Regions from separate parts of the Homo sapiens genome. Here region 1 is linked to region 2. A link means that fine-mapping ties the variant in region 2 to the expression of a gene that starts in the linked region. Tissue or cell type: esophagus mucosa. Region 2 holds a variant in brackets; the other region holds the start of a gene. All regions are shown on one strand. Distances are between the middles of the regions.

Region 1 (11,911 bases), 26 kb before region 2:
GTATGCTAGGTAATATAAAGGGGAGAACTGTAAACAACACCAAGCTACATACTATGTAGTAGTGCTCACTGGTAAACATGCCATACACCACTAAACACACACTGTGCAATACACTACTAAAATCACACCATATAATATGCAACACACACCATGCGATACACCACTAAACAAATGCTACGTAATATACTACTAAACACATACCATGTAATATACCACTAAACACACACTATGTAATACACTACTAAACGACAACTGTGAACACTAAAAAGCTCAAGACATCTTCTCATTATCAAGCCACTGCCAACAAAAACAATGCCTTTCTTCTGTACGGTGCCTTAGAATTTTCAGCATTTATCACTCCTTTGAGCTTAATAAAAGCCCTATCCCATGGGCATTGAAATTTCTTATTTTTCAGTAAGGGGTCCCGATCACCCAGCCTTTTCCTGACTTCTGCTTATTTGCTCGCAACCTCATCCACTTCCCTTCTAAAGGCTAAAGGATATGCAAGTATTATTCACTAACCCTCAAAAGATGTTTGGGTACACCTTACTTTTTTAGAGACAGGGTCTTGGCTGTCACCCAGGCTGGATCGTAGCTCACTCTAGCCTGGAATTCCTGGGCTCAAATGGTCCTCCTGCCTCAGCCTGGTGAGTAGCTGGGACCACATGTGCATCCCACCATGACGGGCCTTTTTTTTGTTGTTTTTTTTTTCTTGGGGGTAGAGCCTGGGTCTCGTTACGTTGCCCAGGCTAGTCTTGAACTCCTGGGTTCAAGCAATCCGTCCACCACAGCCTCCTGAGTAGTTAGGATTACAGGCGTGAGCCACCGCACCTTTAGGAGGCCGAAGTAGGAGGATCGCTTGAGCCTAGAAGTTTGACCAGCCTGGGCAAGATGGTGAGACTCCAGCTCTGAAAAAATAATGCAAAAATTAGCCAGTGTGGTGATGCATGCCTGTAGTTCCAGCTGCTCAGGAGGCTGAGGTAGGAGGATCCCTTGAGCCTAGAAGTTCGAGGCTGCAGTGAGCTATGATCATGCCAGCACACTCCAACCTGGGCAACAGAGTGAGACCCTGTCTCAAAAATAAAGTGATAATGATATTGGGGTTGCAAATGTTTAGAATTATTATGTTTTAGGGCTCTCTCTGAGATCTGAATGGGCAGGATGATGGAGCCTGAGATTGGCTTCACATTAATCCAGTGAGGAGGGTGAAGAGGGGAGCAGATGAGCCGGGTACCCGTACCTCACGAATCCCACGTACAGGGATTCACTGTAAGTGTTTCTATTATAGACTGCATTTACGCATGGTGGAAATGTTCCAAAAAGCTAAACAGAATGGCCAAATCTAGCTGAGAGGTCTGTATAAAGTGTCACATAATAGTTTAAAGCAGATGTTGGCAAACTCATTCTTAATATTTTTGGCTTTGGGAGCCATACTTTCTCAGTCCAATATTCACCCTGCCCTTGTAGGGTAAAGGCAGCCATGAATAATTCACAAATGCACATGAACAACATAGCTGCGTTCCCATCAAACTTTATTTGTAGACATTAACATTTAAATTTCAGTAATAGTCACATGCCAGGAAATATTTTTTAATTTTGATTTTTAAAAACATTTTAGGGCTGGGTGAGGTGGCTCACGCCTGTAATCCTAACACTTTACGATGCCAAGGGTGGTGATCTTTTAATTAAGCCCAGGAGTTGGAGACCAGCCTGGGCAACATAGTGAGACCCCACATATATTTACCCTAGCATGGTGGCGTGTGGCTGTAGTCCCAGCTACTCGGGTAGCTGAGGTGGGAGGATCGCTTGAACCCAGGAGGTCGAGGCTGCAGTGAGCTGTGATTGTGACACTGCACTCAACCTGGGCAAGAGGGTGAGACCCTGTCTCAAAAAACAAAATCATTAATTTTTTAAAAAGTAGGATGTAAAACCATTCTTAGCTCGTGGACCCTAGAAAACGGGCAGGATTTGGTCTGAGGGCTGCAGTTTGCGCACCTGTGGTGTAAAAACCATACCCAAAAAGCCTGGATAGGGAAGGGATTTCAGCTTACAAAATACTCGAGAGAATATATAGTGCACAATAGAAAAGAATTTACACACGCGCACACACACACACACACACACACACACACACACACACACAGAGCGAGACAGAGAGAAGTTAATTGTTAGTCTCTCCCTGGTGCAGTTGGGCAAAAATGAGGAAATCTTTTCTGGTCTGGGTTTTGCTTAACTGCGCCATCTGAAGTTTCCATATAACAAACACAATAAACGGATTTTTTAAAACCCAACGTCCCTTGGATGGGAATTTTACCGACCATGTGTTTGCAAAACTACCTAGTCGGCCGGGCGCGGTGGCTTACGCCTGTAATCCCAGCACTTTGGGAGGCCGAGGCGGGTGGATTACCTGAGGTCAGGAGTTCGAGAGCAGCCTGGCCAACATGGTGAAACTCCGTCTCTACTAAAAATACAAAAATTAGTCGGGCATGGTGGCGCGCGCCTCCCCCAGCTACTCGGGAGGCTGAGGCAAGAGAATCCCTTGAACCCGGGAGGTGGAGGTTGCAGTGAGCCGAGATTGCGCCACTGCACTTCAGTCTGGGCGACAGAGCAAGACTCCGTCTCAAAAAAAAAAAAAAAAATTACCTAGTTGTCCCATCCGGTCCCTAGGGAACAGCCTCCGCTTTCTCTTTTCTCTGTGGTTCAAGTGTTAAGACGGCCAGCCCAACCCGCTAGCCGTGCGCCATCACCCGGGCACCGATCAAGTTCCAACCCGAGTGGATCGAGTTCCAACCTGCGGGCCATGCGCCCTCACCCGGGCATCGATCCGGTCTCAACCTGCGGGCCACGCACTCTCACCCGGGGATTGAGCAGGTCCCAACCCCAGGGCCTCACGCCCTCACCCCAGCACTGAGCAGGTCCCAACCCGCGGGCCTCAAGCCCTCAGCCGGGGACCGAGCAGGTCCCAACCAGCCAGCTACGCGCCCTCAGCCCTGCACCGGGCAGGTTCCAACCCGCGGGCCTCTCGTCCTCACTCCATCACGGAACAGGTCCAAATCCACAGGCCGTGCGCCCTTATCCGGGCACCAGTCGGGTCTCAACCTGCGGGCCACGCGCCCTCACCCAGGCGCTGATCAGATTCCAACCCGCGGGCCGCGCGCGCCCTTACCCAGGCAGCCGAGAAGGTCGCAGGCAGCGGCAGCGCGCAGGATGCGGACCGAGGCCGGCGGGGACGTCGCGGGGGACCCGGGGCCCGCGGGCCGGCGGCCGGGCAGCAGCTGCAGAAGGCCCAGCGCCAAGCGGAGCCCGCCGCTGCCCAGGCAGAGCGCGTGGAAGGCCCGCGGCTGGAAGCTCAGCACGAGCTGCGTGGCTGCGTCCCGCGTGGGGCAGCAGAAGGTCCCTAGGCGCGGGGAGGCCATGGGCTGTGTTCGCGGACGCGGCTCGGGTGTGCCAGGACCCCGCCGGCCTGCCTGGGTCATGTGCTGGGCGGGCTGGGGGCGGCATCATGTGCCCTGGGCCTCTCCCCCACCCCAACCCCCAGCGCCTGCAGTAGAGCCAGGCTCGGTGGGGGCCGAGAGCACTGGGCTAACGCCACGAGGCCTCACGAGGTGATGCTTGGGCGGGCGGAGGAGGAGGACAGAGAGAGGGAGGGCTGAGAGGAGAGGAAGAGGGAGGAGGAGGAGGGAAGTGGAAGGAGAAGCAGAAAGGTTGGGAAGGTTACCTTTCTCCCCATTCACCAAGCCTTCCTGGTGGTTTCTCTGCCACCTAGAGCGCCAAACCTGCCATCTTTACTGGTCTTCTAGAGAAACAGGCCTCGTGGACTAGATCTTTCCTATTTGGGACTCTGACATCCTGATTTTGATGCCTTTAAGGCGCCAGAACATGTTCATAAACTGTGACTGATCCCTGTAACTGCTTTTTTCCTAAGTAGAGATGGTTGTCCAATTAGTGCTTTTTTTTATGGCCTCTCTCATTCATGGATATAATCCCACAGAGGCAGGATTTTCGTTTACAATTAATGAATGAAACAAACAGATCAATGTTAAAGAAAGAGCAGTAGCTCACACCTGTAATCCCAGCACCTTGGGAGGCCGAGGCAGGCAGATCGCTTGAGCTCAAGAGTTGGAGACCAGCGTGGGCAACATGGCGAAACCCCACCTCTATTAAAAATACAAACATTAGCCCGGTGTGGTGGCCCAGGCCTGTGATCCAAGCTACTCGGCAGGCTGAGGTGGGAGGATCGCTTGAGCCCAGGAGGTGGAGTTTGCAGTGAGCCAAGATAGTGCCACTGCACTCCAGCCTGAGCGATAGAGCCAGACCTTGTATCAAAAAACGAAACAAAACAAAAATTAGCTGGATGTGGTGGGGCGTGCTTGTAGCCCTAGCTTCTGGGGAGGCTGAGGTGGGAGGATCACTTGAGCCCGGCAAGTGGAGGTTGCAGTGAGCAGAGATTACACCACTGCACTCCAGCCTGAGCAATGGAGTGAGACCCTATCTCTCTCTCTCACACACACACACACACACACACACACACACACACACACACACAGAATTAAGTTTAAAATTTAAAAACATTAAAAAAATAAAGGGAAAAGTACTCAGCATAAGTACACACAGACACATTTTGCACCTTAACTTTCAGTTCTATTTATTTGGATTTTTCTTAACTGCGTTAATTTTTCTATGTTTTCTCATACATTGAAAATCTTGCTTTATTCTATACATGTAAGTTTCCAAGTAATATTGTGTTAATGATTACAGTAAGCATACTAAGATTTTTTTTTTTAAGTTCTTCAAGGCTGAAAATAGAAGTGCTCCTTCTAGATTATGGCCTTTATTTTAAAAAAAGAAAAGAAAAAAAAATCCAGCTCCATCATATTTATCATCTTCAACAAACCTCATTGGCTCTTTGTGACCACACAAGAGACACCCTTCCTCCTCTCTCCTGGTAAAATGGGCCCCTCTCTGGGTTTTTTTCAAGCAACCAAGGTGCAGGTGTCCCCATTGTGTTCATGGACTTTCCTCACTTGTTCTCCCCACCAGCTTTGCGGTTTTAAGGAAGGCATGATCTGTGCCGTCTTCCTCTAGGGATAGCAGGACTGGCCTTCCCTTGGGACCCCACAGAAGGCAGGCGGGAGGCTCCACTGCCAGACAGGAAGCGGAGCCTTATTTAACAACAATGAGGTGCAAACTCCACCACTTCAAAAGAGTCCAGATCTGGCACGTCTATAAACGCAGCCTGTTCACTCCACAGCTGCCTTCCTAGAAGTCAGAACAGACTGACATCTTCAGAAAGCTTAACAGCTCTGCTGGATTACACACTCCATTGTAAAAACAGTCAGAAGCACCATAGAACTACTCCCCAAGCATTAATGTTTAAAAGCTTGAATTCTAATATCTAATTTGGACAGTGGCTCTCTTTCCTTCTGCCTTGGTAAGCAGAGTTGCTTCTGGAGGTTAGTGTAATGGAAAGTGCTTTAAAAGATAAAAATGAAGAGTGTCTGTACATTTGCCTGAAGGTTGAGGGCCAGTGGGCCAGGCAAAGGGGTCCCTGCATTTGAGTCACTGTTTCATGCCCCAGAAAACACACTCCGCCTCTCTGCTTCCTACGTGATAACCTGGGAGTACTCTCCAGGGGGCTCTGGCTGACTCTGGTGCCCACTACTCAAGCTCAGTAGTCAGAATCTCATCAGTGAGAAAATGGATATGAATGCAGATTCCTAGGGCCATGGCACAGATGACAATGGTAAAGATGAGCCTCAGAGTAAAGGTGCAGAAGCATGAGTGTAAGACTAAATTTAAAACCCTGTCATCAAAGTGAGAGGGAACTAGAAATTGGTATGAGAGGCTGGGCCCAGTGGCTCACACCTGTAATCTCAGCACTTAAGGAGGCTGAGGCAGGAGGATTACTTGAGCCCAAGAGTTTGAGACCATCCTGGGCAACATAGTGAGAGCCCATCTCTAGCGTCTTCCTCTAGGAGCAGCATCTTTTGAAGTGGTGGAGTTTGCAGCTCATTGTTGTTAAATAAGGCTCTGCTTCCTGTCTGGCAGTGGAGCCTCCTGCCTGCCTTCTGTGGGGTCCCAAGGGAAGGCCAGTCCTGCTGTCCCTAGAGGAAGACGACACATCTCAAATTAGCAGAGCGTGCTGCTGCGCACCTGTAGTTGCAGCTACTGGGGAGGATGAGGTGGGAGGATCACTTGAGCCCAGGAGTTTGAGGTTGCAGTGAGCTGTGATTGCACCACCAAACTCCAGCTTGGGTGAACTGAGATGACAAACTTTTTTTTTTTTTTTCCTTTGAGACAGAGTCTTGCTCCATTGCCCAGGCTGGAGTGCAGTGGCGTGATCTCAGCTCACTGCAATCTCTGCCTCCTGGGTTCAAGTGATTCTCATGCCTCAGCCTCCTGAGCAGCTGGGACCACAGGCACATGCCATCACACTCAGCTAATTTTTTGTCTTTTTAGTAGAGATAGGTTTCGTCATGTTGGCCAGGCTGGTCTTGAACTCCTGGCCTCAAGTGATCCACCCGCTTTGGCCTCTCAAAGTGCTGGGATTACAGGCATGAGCCATCATGCCTGGCCTGACAAAACTTTTCATGAAACAGTACAACTACAAATCTGAGAAAAGTGAAGCAAATACACACGCACACACTTGGGAGGCAGAAACATCTGGAAGTTTCGTAGATATGGGAGATACAGGGATGGCGGTGCTGAATATGAACTTTGAGGTATGTGTGCAGAAACAATCGGTCTTTGAGTACATGAAGGTACATCTGTTTTTGCATGAACCCTTCCTCCGTTTTTCCCTCCTTCCCAGTTTAGCACCTGAATTCGCTCTCCATTTTCACAGTTTGGGCTGCCTGGGGCATCTGTTCCCTGGAAATGCTCCATCATCTTGGCTTTCTCTCATTCCACAATCCACCATTTACCCACCATTCCCACTTGATCAGATGCACTTGATCAACTGCTGGAAGACGGTTCCTGAGTTTCTCTCCCAGGCAGTTTATTTTTCATGGTGAGTCCCCTGACATCGAGATGTCTCAACCAAAAGAATGGGGTTTATGGTGAGACTCAGATATCCCTTAGAATCCAGTAGAGGAGGTGGCTAGGGGCAGATGGATGGCAGAAACAGCCTAAGTAAGGAGACTGCCATTCACAATAATTTGAATTTAAATAATAAATAAGATTTGTTTATTTATTTATTGACATGGAGTCTCACTATATCATCCAGGCTGGAGTGCAGTGGTGCGATCTCAGCTCACTGCAACCTCTGCCTCCCGGGTTCAAGTGATTCTCCTGCCTCAGGCTCCCAAGTAGCTGGGATTACAGGCGCCTGCCACCACACCTGGCTATTTTTTGTATTTAGAGTACAGACGGCGTTTTGCCAAGTTGTCCAGGCTGGTCTCGAACTCCTGACCTCAGGTGATCCGCCCGCCTCAGCCTCCCAAAGTGCGGGGATTGCAGGCGTGAGTCACTGCGCCCAGCCTAATAAATAAGATTTAAATAATAAAATAATTTATGGAGTGTAGGCAGGCACTATGCTTTGAATATTACATTCATTATCTCATTTAATATTCAGAATGAGCCTTCCAAGTGGGTTTTACTGATACTTAAATTGATATAGACAAAACATGGCCAGGTGCAGTGGCTTATGTCTGTAATCCCAGTACTTTGGGAGGCCAAGGTGGGAGCATTGTTTGAGCCCAGGAGTTCAAGACCAGCCTGGGGCAACATAGGGAGACCCTGTCCCCCACCTCCCCCAGTCAAAAAAAAAAAAAAAAAAAAAAAAAAAAAAGCCGGGCTCAGTGGCTCACACCTGTAATCCTAGCACTTTGGGAGGCTGAGGCGGGCAGATCACCTGAGGTCAGGAGTTCACTACACTCCAGCCTGGGCGACAGAGCAAGAACAGGAGAAAGAAAGAAAGAAAAAGAGAGAGAGAGAGAGAGAGAGAGAGAGAGAGAGGAAGACCAGCCAATACATAAGTCCATGGGTATGGCTGTGTGCCAATAAAACTTTATTTACAAAACAGGCAAAGGGCCATAGGCTGCAGTTCCTGTAAGTCTACCACCTGAGGCTCTGGCTTATCTAGCAGCTGCTTGAAAGGCTGGGCAACAACCGAGAAATGGAGGAGGATTAACACTTAGTGGGGCAGACAAACTTATTCCAATGAGAGAGGAAGCAGGAAGTCACTGGCAGATGTATTGCTCACCCTTCCTTCCTAGGGAGGTTTCTGAGGAGTGGTTTCATATGTTCCTGTGTAACCAGCTGGGTTTCTTGGGAATCTTGTGGCCAGTTCATGAATGGCACTGCTCTTAATTTGCTTTCTTCCTTCCTTGCCTCACCCTGCTTTTGTGCTCACTCCTAGAGTCCTTATAGACACACAATGTGCCTTAAACTCTGTGCTCAGATAGCTGCTCTTCCTGAGAAAGGATTTCAGCTGCTCCAGCCACAGCCCTCTTTTGGGTCCACCAGATGACCAACAGCATCTTTGCCTTTCATTTAAGTGCAATTCAACAGGAGTTTATGAGTAACATACGCAAGTTGATTGAGCAATGGTATAGATTCTGTGTCCAATAAATAAGGTAGTGTCACCAGACCTTAATGAAGAACACAGGCCAGGTGCGGTGGCTCATGCCTGTGATCCCAGCACTTTGGGAGGCCAAGGTGGGCAGATTGCCTGAGGTCAGGAGTTCAGGACCAGCTTGGCCAACATGAAGAAACCCCTTCTCTACTGAAAATACAAAAACTAGCCAGGCATGGTGGTGCAGTCCTCCCGCCTCAGCCTCCTGAGTAGCTGGGACCACAGGCATACACCATCATGTCTGGCTAATTAAAAAAAAAATGTTGTAGAAATGAGGTCTTGCTATGTTGCCCAGGCTGGTCTCGAATTCCTGGTCTCAAGCCATCCTTTCACCTTGGCCTCCCAGAGTGCCGAAATTACAGGCCTGAGTCACCTCACCCAGACCAAATTGTACATTTTTTTAAATAGGGAGACATGTGAAGTGGCATCAGGCCTGAGAATGGTACTAGTTCAACTTTACTGTGCATTCGCGTGCAGATCTTGTGGAAAGGCAAATCCTGATTCAGGGTTTCTGGGGGTGGGGCCCAAGACTCTGCATTTCTTACATTCTCCAAGGAGACATGGCTGCTGCTGACCTATGGCTCCTACTTTGAGTGCCAAGACCCTAGAGCTTGTATCTTATCCTGAAAAGCAAAGAAAACTCCCAGGCCATATTTGAATTTATGGAGGACTTGGTTCAAAATAGATGCAGTAAAATTGATTAGCATCCAACTAAGCCATGGAGCATTCTCTCTCTTTTTTTTTTTTTTTTGGATGGAGTCTTGCTCTGTTGCCCAGGCTGTGGCAATAGAGTGGTGTGATCTTGGCTCACTGCAACCTCCGCCTCCCAGGTTGAAGCGATTCTCCTGCCTCAGCTCTTGAGTAGCTGGGATTACAGATGCGTGCCACCACCCCTGGCTAACTTTGGTATTTTTAGTAGAGGTAGGGTTTCACCATGTTAGCCAGGCTGGTCTTGAACTCCTGATCTCAGGTGATCCACCCACCTTGGCCTCCCAAAGTGCTGGGATTACAGGCATGAGCCACCGCGCCCGGCTGGAGCATTCTCAACACAGTGGATGAGTCAAGGAGGGAATCATTAGTCGGAGAATGGTGAGCAATGTCCTTCCTCTTGGATTCTGATGTGTTTGGGACTAACCTGGGACAGAAGTCAGGACGCAGGGAGGAAAAGAAAGGGAAGAGGAAGACAACAGATAAGGACTGAGAGAGGCAAATACGCGATTTGTGTTGAAAAATAGGATGTCCTGACAATTTTCTCCTATTGAAACTTAAGGGAGCATTTCCATCCTGGTCTGTTAAAATAGGAAGCCAGTATTGTGATAAACTCCCAGGAGAAGCTCTTGCCCAAGTGAGTAGCACATTGCCCTCCCATGGACCTATCCATGGCTAACCTCCTAACTCATCACACTCCATTTTAAATGCTTTCTCCGTAAAAGTCAACTAGTCAGTTGTTAACTGTGAGAACAAGGTGAAAATGGAAAGTAAAACAGGGTTTGCTTCACAGTGATTCAATTTTCAATTCACAATTAAATTTGGCAGAACACGTCTATTTCAAAAAGAACAACTGACCTGGGCGCAGTGGCTTATGCCTTTGGGAGGCTGAGGTGGGAGGATTGCTTGAGCTCAGGAGTCCAAGACCAGCCTTGGACAACATATAGTGAGACCTCATCTCTACTAAAATTCAAAAAAATTAGCCAGGTGTGGTGGCATGCACCTGTGGTCCCAGCTGCTGTTGGGGGCTGAGGCGGGAGGATTGCTTGAGCCTCCAGGGTTGAGGCTGCAGTGAGCCGTGATAGTGTCACTGCACTCCAGCCTGGGTAACAGAGCAAGATCCTGTCTCAAAAAAAAAAAAAAAAAAAAAAAGACATTGATAACAGTCTGATGGAGTAAATATGCCAAAAGTAACAATTTTCATATAGCTCAGAGTTGAAACTGGCATTTGTGATGGAATAAACAGCAAGTAGAAAGAAAAGGAAACAAGACAGATATGAAAAGCTGATTGTGGTATGAGTGGTTGATGCTATTAAATGTTTAATGACTACCACAACAGAGCCACAAATAAATGGACGAGTACAGACTATTAAAGACAGTTCAATGTTTATTTAAATTAACATCAAGTACGGTGTTTTACATGTAAATTCACATCGCGTGCTTTTTCTGATGTGCAAGAAAGCATGCATAATTCTACACGCCTTCATGGTGAGAATCGTTCTCACATTTGCCTGCCTAAAGACATCTGTCTGCCTAAAGACATTTGTCTACATTTCTTTATAAGAATGTCAGAGTTTCAGTTCAGTTCACCTTATCCTATTTGGTGATATTTGGACTTTTCAGCTCAAAAGGAGAAAAAGTTTTTAAGGAAAATTTCCAACATCCACAAAAGGAATGTAATGATTTTGAGACCTGATGCTTAGCTATGTACTTGAGTTCAGTTGACAAACGCTCAAGGCCCATTAAAAGCAAACACTTTTACATAAATCTGCTCTCTTTGGAGTGGCTTTGAAAGTACACACACACACACACACACACACACACACATAAACACACACGCACACACATATACTTTTTCGTCATATCTACAAACAAAATTGACTCTTCATTGAATTTTAGAAAAATTGCCCTGGAGTGGTGCTTCACACCTATAATCTCAGCACTTTGGGAGGCCGAGGCGGGTGGGTCACTTGAGCTCCGGAGTTCAAGACCAGCCTGGGCAACATGGCAAAACCCTGTCTCTACCAAAAATACAGAAGCATGGTGGTGCACGCCTGTGGTCCCAACTACCTGGGAGGCTAAGGTGGGAGGATCTCTGTAGCCAGGGAAGTTGAAGCTGCAGTGAGCCGAGGTCGCACCACTTCACTCCAGCCTGGGGCGACAGACTGAGACCCAGTCTCATAATAATAATAAAGAATTTTAGAAAAATTACATACACTTCATTGACAGCCAAATTGAACTTAGAAAAAAAGTTTTATTTGTGCTTTTAAGATCATGAATGATGAAAATGATTTGTTCAATCAAAAGTCAGCAAACCCAGCCAGATGCAATGGTTCACACCTCTAATCTCAGTGACTTGGGAGGCTGAGGTGGGATGATCACTTGAGGCCAGGAGTTCAAGACCAGCCTGGGCAACATGGCGAGACCCCTTCCCACACCTCCCATCCTCATCTCTTAAAGAAAAAAAAGTCAGTAAAACCATTCCAATTTGAAATGATGTCCCGAATGTATAGATGTTCTTGAATATCCTATCTCCTACCAAAGTCAAAAGACAGAAATCCCATTAGGATGCCAGCTTCTGTGTTTCCTGGCAGGATTCAGTCCCTTGTGGGCTGTCTCCAAGGCCGT
Region 2 (11,911 bases):
GGCTGCCCTGTGCTTTGGAGGATGCTCAGCAGCCTCCCCAGCCTCTACCTGCTTGATGCTACTGTCACCTCTCTCCAGGTGTGATGACAAAAATGTCTCCAGACATTGCCAAATGTCCTCTGGGGGCAAAATTAGCCTGGTTTTGAATCTCTTTTGTTAGATTAACCATATATCACCTTTGCTCTTAAAGGATTCTTGCTCTTAAAACTTCTGTTTCTTTTTGAATAGACTGGCCTTTAGGGTGGTGTGTTTAGAGGCCTCTGGCATTGCCAGTGTTTGCATGGAGAGCTGTTTTCCTCCCACGCGTTGGCCCTGAGAATAGGCTTTATTTACATAGTCAAACTCAAACAAATACTTGCTTCATCTGCATTTTTTGTAGCTGGAGAAAGGAAATTGAAGCAGGAACTCCCAAGTGCTGTGTTTTATGGGCATCCACAGTGGCTGTTCAGAATCAGGACTGACTACTCTCTGGGTCTAGTTTGAAGCTAAAGGGATACCAACTTCAGAGGAGTAGCATTCTTGGAATTTGGGGTGCATGCATGAAGCCCAGCAGAACCTCCGCTGACAGATGGCGACAGGATTCATCACTCCTCAGTACGTTTCTGCTGATTTCTGCCTTGAAATTTTGCTACAGTTGGTGGAAAAAATGCACTCAAACCCATATTTCCATGCTGTTGTTAGAGAGGGGGCAGGAATAACATCCATGCTGTAGGAATCTATGTAACGGAAGTAGAGATGGTGGATATATGTGATCCTGGTGGGTTTTTTGCATGTTTCTGTTCCCATCCATTCAACCAGTGGAAGTCTTCAGTGGGGGGAGGGGAGGGGACTGATTTCTAAAATGTCACTAGAGTGGCTTGAATTCCACAAAGCTGTTTGGGGGATTCATGAGGAAGCGTTAAATACACCAGCTGGGTGTCAGCAGCCCCCTGTGGCCTCAGGAATGTTTGTTAAGGGAGGGAAGGAATGAAGCCCCAGCCTCTCCTGTTCACTATTTCTTAGAGTCCGCTCCCTCCCCCAAAAAGAATGCCAGAAGCCTTAGCCCGAAGCTCCAAAGAAGACAGTAACTTGGGCCTGGCCTAGCCCCAAGGGCAGCTCCTTTGGGAACCCATTGATTTTCGGGTTGCCATTGGGCACCAGAGCTGTTGTGTGCGACAAGACTGCTGTGGTCTGGGACGCTTGGAGGTCCCCCCCACCTGACTCACCCACCCCAGGGCTTCAGACTCTGAGAACATTTCTCTGGATTGGAGACAGAGCTTTGAAATGTCCTTTCCAGTGTGAATGCCAAAGACGGAATCAGGGCATATTTTGGGGGGCGTGCAGCCAGGTGGCAAGTGTCTTATGTAAAGTGTTAGCTGAGTCCTTGATTGCAGAGGGCACAGGGCTGAGACTGGTGGTTGGTGATGGGCAGGAGTGGAGGCCCCGCGCCTCTGATGTACCTTACTTATTGGTTTGGAAAGGGGGCTCTGCATTATGGGCCATGCCAAGTCACCTCGTGACCCGAGGACCGGGGAGATCAGAGTGACCACCCTGGTCGGGATCAGTTCTTGTCTCATATGCCATTATATTGGCTCCCAAGAGCCAACCAAGCTCTTTGTGAAATATCAGTAAAGGTTTTGAAAAAGAGGGACCTGATGAATTCAGCAGTGGGTCAGGAGCGGGTGACTCTCAACTTTGTGGCTGCTGGTGGATTTTTGTGCCCAGATGCAGTGTGCGGTCAACATCTGCACGAGGGAGTGCTGCTGCTTCTCCAGGTGTCTGAGAACCAGTGGGTGAGGGCTTGGATCTCCCTTGCCTCTGCCATCTCTAAGTGATGTCCGAGTTGTAAAGCTTTACTCACTTTTTGATGCCAGCTACCATGTTTTCTTCAGCTATTAGGATAAGTGTCATTATAAAGATCCATCTGTATTTAAGAATTAATAGTAAGGTTAAAAACCAAGAGGTGAGCTTTCTTTCCTGTGCTGAAAGACCCTTTCAGTTGGTAGGCCCGCCTTGCCAACTGGCTTTCAAGTCTATCTTTATTACCTTTTCCCAGCCTGTGAATTAATGTGACCCTGCTGAATTCTCATCCTTGTTCTCCGGCGATGTTTTGGGCAAGAGTGTGGAGTCAGGCAGTGAGCCTCAAGTCCTATTCCAGGGTCTGGGAGCTGGAGGCTTTGAGGGTCAGCTCTGGGAGGATTCTTCCTCTCTTAGACATTAACTCAGCTTGACTCACGCCTATGAATCCAGAGCCTTCTGCGATTATGAGAAGCTGTAAACATAAGCTATGCATCTCACTTCTGTACCAGGATGCGTTCGGTCTTCATGGCTCAGTTATGAGTATTTCTTAACATGTCGTAACATTTATCTTTTGAAAAAAAAAAAGAAAAGAAAACTAGTTTGCCCAAGAGCTAAAGGTAGAATAGTATGATAATGAAAGGCTCAGAACAAGTAGCAGTTTTCACCTTGTCCTAATGAGCTGGGGGTTTCTTAATCTACCTTTGTAATTCATGGTCAAAAAAACTGGCTTGCCACTTGGGAAGGGCTGGTTTTTCTCTTTGGAAAGCATTTTGGAGTTGTTTGTCCCCTTGCCAGAGTTGTTTTGTATCAGCATGCAAATAAACCTGGATTTGTGGCCAAGTTCTTAAGGGCAGTGGAGAAAAGCTGGGGCTCTGTGGAACTTTTCTTCTTGCACACCGGGTGCAGCGGAAACATTCTACACGATAATGTTAGAATGTAAAAGCTGAATGGACTTTTTATTCAGGTCTTCTTTTACTTTCAAGCACTGTAGTCAGCAGTGGGGCAATTCATGAAGGATAAATTCTGCAGGTTTCTGCAAGCCCTCTTCCTACACATGCAAGCCGAAAACTTTAACCCACATGAAGGATTTTGAAAGAGTTCTGGGTTGCCTGTTGCTCTTTTAGGCCTTTAAAAAAATATCACCAGTGCCAGGCACGGTGGCTCACGCCTGTAATCCCAGCACTTTGGGAGGCCGAGGCGAGTGAATCACCTGAGGTCGGGAGTTCAGGACCAGCCTGACCAACATGGAGAAACCCTGTCTCTACTAAAAATACAAAAAAATTAGCCGGGTGTGGTGGTGCATGCCTGTAATTCCAGCTACTCGGGAGGCTCCCGGGAGGCAGAGGTTGTGGTGAGCTGGAGATCGTGCCATTGCCCTGGGCAACAGGAGCAAAACTCCATCTCGAGAATAGAATAGAATAGAATAGAATAGAATAGAATAGAATAGAATAGAATAGAATAGAATAGAATAGAATAGAATAGAATAGAATAGAATAGAATAGAATAGAATAGAATAGAATAGAATAGAATAGAATAGAATAGAATAGAATAGAATAGAATAGAATAGAATAGAATAGAATAGAATAGAATAGAATAATCACCAGTATCTGATACAGGGAGGGTGTATTCTGGAGGAATTGTTGTCCTTTACCTTGTGTGATGCAGTATTTGGGCTGTCCTGTAGTAGAGCCAGCCTGTTCCCATTATGGGTGTGAATGTTCCAGCTTCTCTTTGGGGGAACATGTCTTAGAAGGATAATACTATATCATTAAAAAGAAAAAATTGGACAAACCTCATTTGGTTGAACCTTAGAACTAGGATGTTCTGAATTGCAAAGCAAAGGTAACATTTTTTTCCCCAGATAAGGAGCCCCTGGGCTGTTTTTTTGTGTTGTTTTTTTTTTTGTTGTTGTTGTTGTTTTAAATCCCCAGCGTATTAAGTTGCAGGCAATGAGGGCTGCTTCTTTTGGATGGAAAGGGAAGAAAAACAGCATCTTGGCTTGGCTAGGAAGGGCTGGGATTATCTTTCTTTTGGCAAAAGGTGACTTTCAGATCAAAGGCAAATTGTTGAGGTCAACAAGAACCCAGGCAGGGTAGACTCTGTGTCCTTGAAAGGTAACACTTCTTACTCATAGAAGGGAAGGGGCAAGCATGATAGCGTATTTTTTTTTTTTTAAGACAGATTCTTGCTCTGTCTCCCACACTGGAGTGCAGTGGCATGATCTTGGCTCACTGCAACCTCCGCCTCTGGGGTTCAAGCAATCCTCCCACCTCAGCCTGGCGTTACAGGCGCACACCACCACGCCCTGCTAATTTTTGTATTTTTAGTAGAGACAGGGTTTCACCATGGTAGCCAGGCTGGTCTCTAACTCCTGACCTCAAGTGAACCACCCGCCTTGGCCTCCCAAAGTGCTGGGATTATAGGCATGAGCCATCGTGACACGCTAGGAGTGTCAGTGTATCTTTTATGAGGTTTTATTTTATCAAAGTGGCTCTTGCACAGTATGAATTATCAAGTAGTTCTTCAAGGGTGCTTATATGCTACTGGTCATTTGGCCTGACTACTGATCACTTCCCCCTCCCTAGAGACAACTATCAAAACGTCTTAGCTGATTTCTTTTGGTATTTCTGTCCATATCCCTAAATGATGGCTTATATTGTATATTGCTGCAACTTTTGTTTATTAGCTTGTTCTTCCCAATGTAGGATATTAGGATGTAGCCTTTTTTCCACTCTTTTTTTTTTTTTGAAAGTCTCGTCCTGCCACTCAGGCCAGAGTGCAATGGCATGATCTCGGCTCACTGCAACCTCCACCTCTGGGGTTCAAGCGATCCTCCCACCTCACCCTCCCGAGTAGCTGGGATTACAGGCTCGAGCCACCATGCCCAGCTAATTTTTATATTTTTAGTAGAGATGGGGTTTCGCCATGATGGCCAGGCTGGTCTCAAACTCTTGGCCTCAAGTGATCTGTCCACCTCAGCCTCCCAAAGTGCTGAGATTACAGGCATGAGCCACTGCGCCTGGCCCTTATTTCCACTCTTTTTCATTGCTCATCTACCCTCCCCCAACTACTCAGGCACAATTCTTGGCCCTTCATACCCCTAATGTGATTACATCATAATTTTTTGGTGTGGGGCCATCCTGTGAATTGTAGGATCTTGAGCAGCATACCTAGCCTCTTCCTTTCTTTTTTTTTTTTTAGACAGGGTCTTGCTCTCTTGCTCAAGCTGGAGTGCAGTGTCATGATCACAGCTCACTGCAGCCTCCATCTCCTGGACTCAAGTGATCCTTCCCCCTCAGCCTCCTGAGTAGCTGTGACTACAGGTGCATGCCACTATGCCCAGCTAATTTTTGTATTTTTTGTAGAGATGGGGTTTCACCGTATTGCTTGGGTTGATCCTGAACTCATGGCCTCAAGTGATCCTCCCACCTTGGCCTCCCAAAATGTTGAGATTACAGGCGTGAGCAACTAAGGCTGGCCTCTTCCCCGCTCTGAGGAGCATGGGGTTACCAATATTCAGTGTTTATTTTGGTTGCTATTGCTATCACTGCTGAGTCTGGGGGTACATACTGTGGAGTCCTGATAAGTTAGCATCAATGAAGAAGGGACCCCAGGGTGGGGGAGAACAATTGTTCTGAGAAACTGCTAACCACAAACAACTCTGCGTGTAGCTTCTCCAGCATGATCCTATAAAACTTCCCTCCAGCCCCTGCCTCTTTGCAACCCCTTCTCTGCTGTGTTGCCTGTTGCTCCCTTGCAACATACTTTTTCTCTAATAAATTAGTCTTCTCTTCTCTTCTCTTCTCTTCTTTTCTTTTTTCTGAGATGTAGTTTCGCTCTTGTTGCCCAGGCTGGAGTGCAATGGCGAGATCTCGGCTCACTGCAACCTCCGCCTCCCAGGCTCAAGTGATTCTTCTGCCTCAGCCTCCTGAGTAGCTGGGATTACAGGCGCCTGCCACTACGCCTGGTTAATTTTGTATTTTTAGTAGAGATGGGGTTTCTCCATGTTGGTCAGGCTGGTCTCAAAATCCCAACCTTGGGTGATCCGCCCACCTCAGCCTCCCAAAGTGCTGGGGATTACAGACATGAGCCACCGCGCCCAGCCATAAACTAGTTTTTCTTTAACTGACTACTGTCTCAGTAAATTCTTTTACTGCCCGTGACTCTGGCCCCAGCCAGTGTACCCACAACACAAGTTTCTGCAGTCACTAGGGTTCAGGATAGTTTTCTTTGCTTAATTTTCAGTGCACTTATCCTTGATTCATCCCTCAAACCCTCCCCAGTGATGAAATATCTCTTAATATATTCAGACACACCGGGGGTCATCTTTTGAGATCTTCTCTGTCTGAAAACAGCATGATTTTTATCTTGACAGTAAATTGTTTGGGCGTAGTCCTGAATGGAGACAGTTCTCCCACAGCACTCTGAAGGTGGTGTCCACTCTGCTGTTGTGCAGTATTGCTGGAGGGAGATCAGACGTTTTTGTTTCTTGATCTTTTGTACTAGGTCTACTTTTTCCCTCTCATTTTTCTTTTTCTTTCTTTCTTTCTTTCTTTTTTTTTTGAAGAGACAGGGTCTTGCTGTGTTGCTCTGGCTGGAGAGCCGTGGCTATTCACAGGCACGGTTATAGCCACACTACAGCCTTGAACTCCTGTGCTTAACTGATCCTCCCATCTCAGCCTCCCAAGTAGTTGGGTTTACAGGTGTGTACCACTATGCCCAGCTCTCTTATTTTGCATTTCTTTGTATTTTTGTTCTTCCTGGAAGATTTTGTTCAACATCATCTTCTAATCTTTCCATTAAGTTTTAAATGTATGTCCTCATTTTTCCCTCAGATTCTAAACTTTTAAAATTTGTTTCTCAAATGTTCCTTTTTCATACCATACTGATCTTGTTTCATGATTCTTCCATATCTGTGACAGTATTAAACTGGTCTCTAAAAATGTCCTCTTTTTGCATAGATTGTTTCTGAGCTCTGCTTTTGTTGTTTGTTTTGGCTGCTTTCTTCCCTGTTAGAGGTTGTCTTCAAATGTCTAGTGCTCCTTGGCCGTCTGCTGGTATTGAAGGTTGCGTTCCCCAAAATGCTGTTTGGACACTCCGTGCATGGGGGTGAGTGATCAGGTGAAGCTGTTTCCCTGGGTATTCCTCTAAGGCTGTATCTTTCTCTTTTTTTTTTTCTGGAGGGGCAGGGAGGCGGCCATGTTTTTGTCAGATACTTTTTTTCTACTTAATAAACTTCTGGTGTAGTACAGGTTGAAAAGTAATGGGAA[G/A]TCTGCCAGTTGAGGGGATCTCTCCTTTGCTCAGCTGGGCGAGGGTGATCATCTCTGCCCCCCAACTTTGGCTGTAGTGGTTCCAGTTTGGAGGGAAGGTTACCACTAGGCAGAGGAGGCAGTGCTTGCTTGCTTGCATCCGGAGCTGGATCTTGCTCTCAGTTCCTAACCGTTTCTAATCAGTAATCCTCTGTCTGTCCAACTAGAATCATTCCTATTTTATTGTGGTATCATGGGGATTAAATGAGGCAACACATAAAGCTATCTCTAGTAAATTCAAATTCCCCCTCACTTCTCTTCCTCACTTTCCCTACTCAATCCTGATTCATTAAGAATTTGGAACTTTGGGAGGCCGAGGTGGGAGGATTGCTTGAGCCCAGGAAGTCAAGACAAGCATGGGCAACAAAATGAGACCCCATCTCTACAACAAATAGAAAAATTAGCCAGGCAAGGTGGTATGTACCTCCAGTCCCAGCTACTTGGGAGGCTGAGGTGGGAGGATCGCTTTGAGCCAAGGAGGTTGAGGGTGCAGTGAGCCAAGATCACACCACTGCACTCCAGCCTGGGCGACAGAGTGAGACTCTGTCTCAAAAACAAAAAATAAATAAAAAATAAAAATAAAATAAAAAATACATCTAATGCCCAGCATCAGTACATTTCCTATGTTATTTGTAGCCCACCAGAAGTGATTCTTTCCTCTCCTCTACCAAAAAACTTTTTTCCAGAATAATAGTGTTTCTTATTTTTATAATATTAATAAAGGGAGTAGCTCTTTCAGATCAATGTGGTATTCAGAGTAGGGTTTTTATTTGTTTTTTTGTTTGTTTTGATATGGGGTCTCGTTCTGTCATTCAGGCTGGAGTGCGGTGGTGTGATCACGGTTCACTGCAACCTCAGTCACCTGGGCTCAAGCAGTCTTCCCACCTCAGCCCCCCAAGTATTAGGACTACAGGCACATGCCACCTCATCTGGCTAATTTTTTGTATTTTCTGTAGAGGTAGGGTTTCGCCATATTGCCCAGGGTGGTCTCGAACTCTTGGGCTCAAGTGATCTACCCACCATGGCTACCGAAAGTGCTGAGATTACTGATGTGAGCCACTGTTCCTGGGCCAGAGTAGGGTGTTAAAAAAGTAGTTTTGGGAAGTGGCAATAGTGGGAAAGATGAAGATTCAGTATCCCTGTGACAAGACTCTATTTCTTCACTCTTTCAATCTTTGGAGTAGAAAATCTGTTAGGGTTTAGAGTGGGACCCACAAGTGTGGCAGAAATGCTGCCTGCCCGAGTCCTTGTTGCCTCCTCCTCTCAGACACTGTTGGGCCACATTTCCCAGCCTCCCTAGCAGTTAGCTGTGGCCTCCTGACGCTTCTACCCTGGGGAGTGCAGCTGCAGCCATGCCTGCCATTTTACTTTTCCCCTTCTGGCTGCCTGGAATGAAGATGGCCGCAGGGCAGAGTTCATCAGCGTGGATCCCTGAATGACTGCAGAGGTGGCTGCCCATGCTATGGTCACCATCCATGGTGAGCAAGAAGTAAGCCTCTGCTGTGTTTGGGCCATTCATTGTATGTTTTTTGGATTACTTGCTGTAACAGACTATTCTCACAAATGAAATGCTGGGAGAAATCAGAAGTTTTCCTTCTAGCAAATATACCCAGCTTTAAGAGGCGGAATATACGGTGCTTCTTTTACACCCATGCTGGAAGGAGTGAGGAAAGCATCACTGTGGGTGTCCAATTAGCATGAAGCCTATTCCCTGCACACTTATTATATAAAATGAGACCTCCACGCCCATTGGCGTCTTTCCACCTCCTTACCCTTTTCTCTCAGCTGGTAATTTATTCACCCCCACCCCCCACTTGCTCTTCCTTCTCCTCCCCGGGGATGATTTCCTGGGAGCCCTGGAGCATTGGGGCAGGAGGCCGGGAGAATGCCCAGTCTAGATAATTAGTCCTAGGTGGGGCTGGCCGGAGGCACAGTGGGTGGGGTGGGTGGCCAGCTGCTGTTAGGATGATTTCAGGGATTGGACCTTCCTCCTGGTGGTGGTGTCCTTTCTTTAACTGCCTTGGTTAAAATGCAAATGTTGCCTGGGAGGGCTACACATTGTCATCATTAACAGAACTGCCTTCATCAGATTAATTAATTATAGTTCTGTATGGCAGACTTTTTTCCCCCTGGTAGTAGCACCCAGACACATGAATTAGACCAGCAAAGAGAGGAGAGATAAAGTTGAAAGCCAGATGAAAGCCAAGTAAAACTGGCCTCGGGAGGAAGGTGGAGCTGGCGGAGTGGGAGTGCTGAGGAAAGACCTTGTCTGTTCAGGTACTGGCCGCCTACAAAGAGGAGTTAGGACAGCCTGTGGAGGAAGCTGGTAGGGAGAGCAGGGGCCCAAGTCCAGCTGAAAACCCTCCCTGGACTTGCAAAAGAGGTGAAAGAGATTCTTTACCTATGGCTTGCAGATTCTGAAGCTGACGAAATTCCACATCTATTGGTGTTAATTGTGCATCTGTTTGCAAATTTGTAAACATGGTGATATTTATCTCTGCTAATTGTATAATGCTTTGTACAGTGTCTTTTTTCTTGTTGCACAATTAAAATGAAAAAAATTGAAAATAAAGGAAAAGATTGATCCATAGCCCAAAACATGTAATAATCTTATTTCTGAAAGTACAGCTGTATTGATTTTTCCCCATCTCTGTGGAATTCTTTGCTTTGAACCTCGTAGATCTAATTTTTAATTGCTTGAAAACCCTTAAGAATTACATTGTCAACAATCTTTGGAATCAGATGAAAGGAGTTTAATTGTGTGTATGCCACTTGACGTTTTAAGAAATGGTATGTTTTGTTGTGGAATATATTTTTATAATTTAGGTTTTTCTAGACAGGCATATTTTTAAAAACCCTAATTTCTGGAAAACGGAGTGTACTTTATATTGGTCAAATATGTCAGTCTTTCAAACAACTATGCTTTTTTGTATGTGCAGCTTTTCTTAACATTTTCATTATGTTTAGATGCCCTGAATCTTGAATTAAAGTTTGGAAAGAAAACATCTGGACTTGAAAAGATAGGCCTGCTGCTGCTTCAATCATATTTATTTTGTGTTGATTTAACGACAGAGCTCTCACATGCTGATGCCATTAGGGTTTGGGACGGAGCCATTTCCACTCCCCCTCCTCATTTTTAGTGGCTGGTGTTTTGGGGACAAGTAATTAAAACTTGTACCACTATTCATGGTTGTGAAATCTCAACACAAAGGTAAAATTCCTGAGGATGCACCTCCTTGTACCCTGAGGCAGGAACTTGTTTGCCTTTACGGAGAGTTTAATTCTTTTTTTTTTTTTTTTTTTTTTTTTTTTGAGATGGAGTCTGGCTCTGTCACTCAGGCTGGAGTGCTGTGGCATGATCTTGGCTCACTGCAACCTTTGCCTCCCCGGTTCAAGCAATTTTCGTGTCTTAACCTCCTGAGTAGCTGGGATTACAGGTGCGCCACCGCGCCCGGCTAATTTTTGTATTTTTAGTGGAGATGGGGTTTCGCCATGTTGGCCAGGCTGGTCTCGAACTCCTGACCTCAGGTGATCTGCCTGCCTCAGCCTCCCAAAGTGCTGGGATTACAGGTGTGAGCCACCACGCCTGGCCTGAGAGTTTAATTTTTAATTCTTAAATTACCCATTAATTAATTACCATTAATTAAGAATTTTTAATTTTTAAATTACCCATGTTGTAATTGCTTCACTGAAAAAAATGTTCAATTCCTATGAAAACTCTTTATTTCCCCTTCTTTCTATTTTTACAGTGGCTTACACTGGTTCTTTTCCTTTGCCATCTACTAGAAGGTTGGATTTCTTGAAGGTCCTTTTATCTGTCCTCTCTCTCTCATCTAGGTGGTCTCATGTGCTTCCTCGAGATAACGTGCATCTGTTTGCAAATTTGTAAACATGGTGATATATGGTGCCTATAGACAATGCTCATATCTATATGTGCAGCCTCAACTTCTCTTCTTTTTTTAATTTTCAATGACCATTTTACCAAATCAACTTTTCGTCTGAACTCTGAGATGGCCCTTGTGTGTTGCTGAGGCCCTTTAAACTCAGCACAATCCAAATGGGAATCATTCATCTTCCTTTACCTTCTCTAATTCTGAATTTCTAATCTTGATCATCAGTTTATCCCCAAATCTAGAAGTCGTCCCTGATGCCTTCCTCCCCTTAACCTCCCACAGCCAGTTGATCACCAATCCTTTGGAGCCTAAATACGGGGTGTGCATTGCTTTCTTCTCATGCCCAGCGTCACTGCCTCCAGTGGTTTGCTCCAGTGACTGCCTGGGCAATCACAGTAGTCTGTAACATGCATACTGCTGCTCACCTCTTCACATGACAGACTCTTGAGACCTCCAGTAGTCGGTGTGCCAAAACAGTGGTCTACTTCTCATGCTCTTGCTGGAAAAGCCTCAGTAATTCCTCATGGGACACCTTAGCTAGGTATAGAAGGCTTATTTATTTTATGTATTATTATTATTATTATTATTATTTGAGATGGAGTCATGCTCTGTCACCCAGGCTGGGGTGCAGTGGCGTGATCTTGGCTCACTGCAACCTCCGCTTCCCAGGTTCAAGTGATTCTCTTGCCTCAGCCTCCCAAGTAGCTGGGATTACAGGCACCTGGCACCATGCCTGGCAAATTTTTGTATTTTTAGTAGAGATGGGGTTTCACCATGTTGGCCAGGCTGGTCTTGAACTCCTGACCTCAAGTGATCCACCCGCCTCAGCCTCCCAAAGTGCTGAGATTACAGGCATGAGCCACCATGTCTGTCCACTTTATTTTTATTTTATAGAGATGGGGTTCTCATCTCTGTCACCCACTGGAGTGG

Direction of the effects. Alleles are on the strand shown, and positions count from the first base shown. SD is a standard deviation of normalised expression in the study named.
In carriers of allele G in region 2, the expression in esophagus mucosa of the gene that starts at base 3,446 in region 1 tends to be lower than with A alone (small effect, 0.18 SD a copy in GTEx).

The links. PIP is the estimated chance that this variant, and not a neighbour inherited with it, causes the effect.
Region 1: GPR143 starts here. The variant in region 2 is fine-mapped to the expression of GPR143 in esophagus mucosa (GTEx, PIP above 0.99).

Annotation. Positions count from the first base shown.
Region 1 is chrX:9,762,402-9,774,312 of GRCh38, forward strand. It overlaps GPR143 (G protein-coupled receptor 143), which reads right to left and starts at 3,446. Exons shown (of 9, transcript NM_000273.3): 1 at 3,167-3,446. The coding sequence starts at 3,416. RefSeq lists an enhancer at 2,352-2,853.
Region 2 is chrX:9,788,786-9,800,696 of GRCh38, forward strand. The region is part of intron 1 of SHROOM2 (shroom family member 2); the gene reads left to right. Among named protein-coding and RNA genes, the nearest start is that of SHROOM2, 8.3 kb to the left of the region's middle. RefSeq lists an enhancer at 4,243-4,766. The variant G/A (reference allele first, on the strand shown) is at 7,050.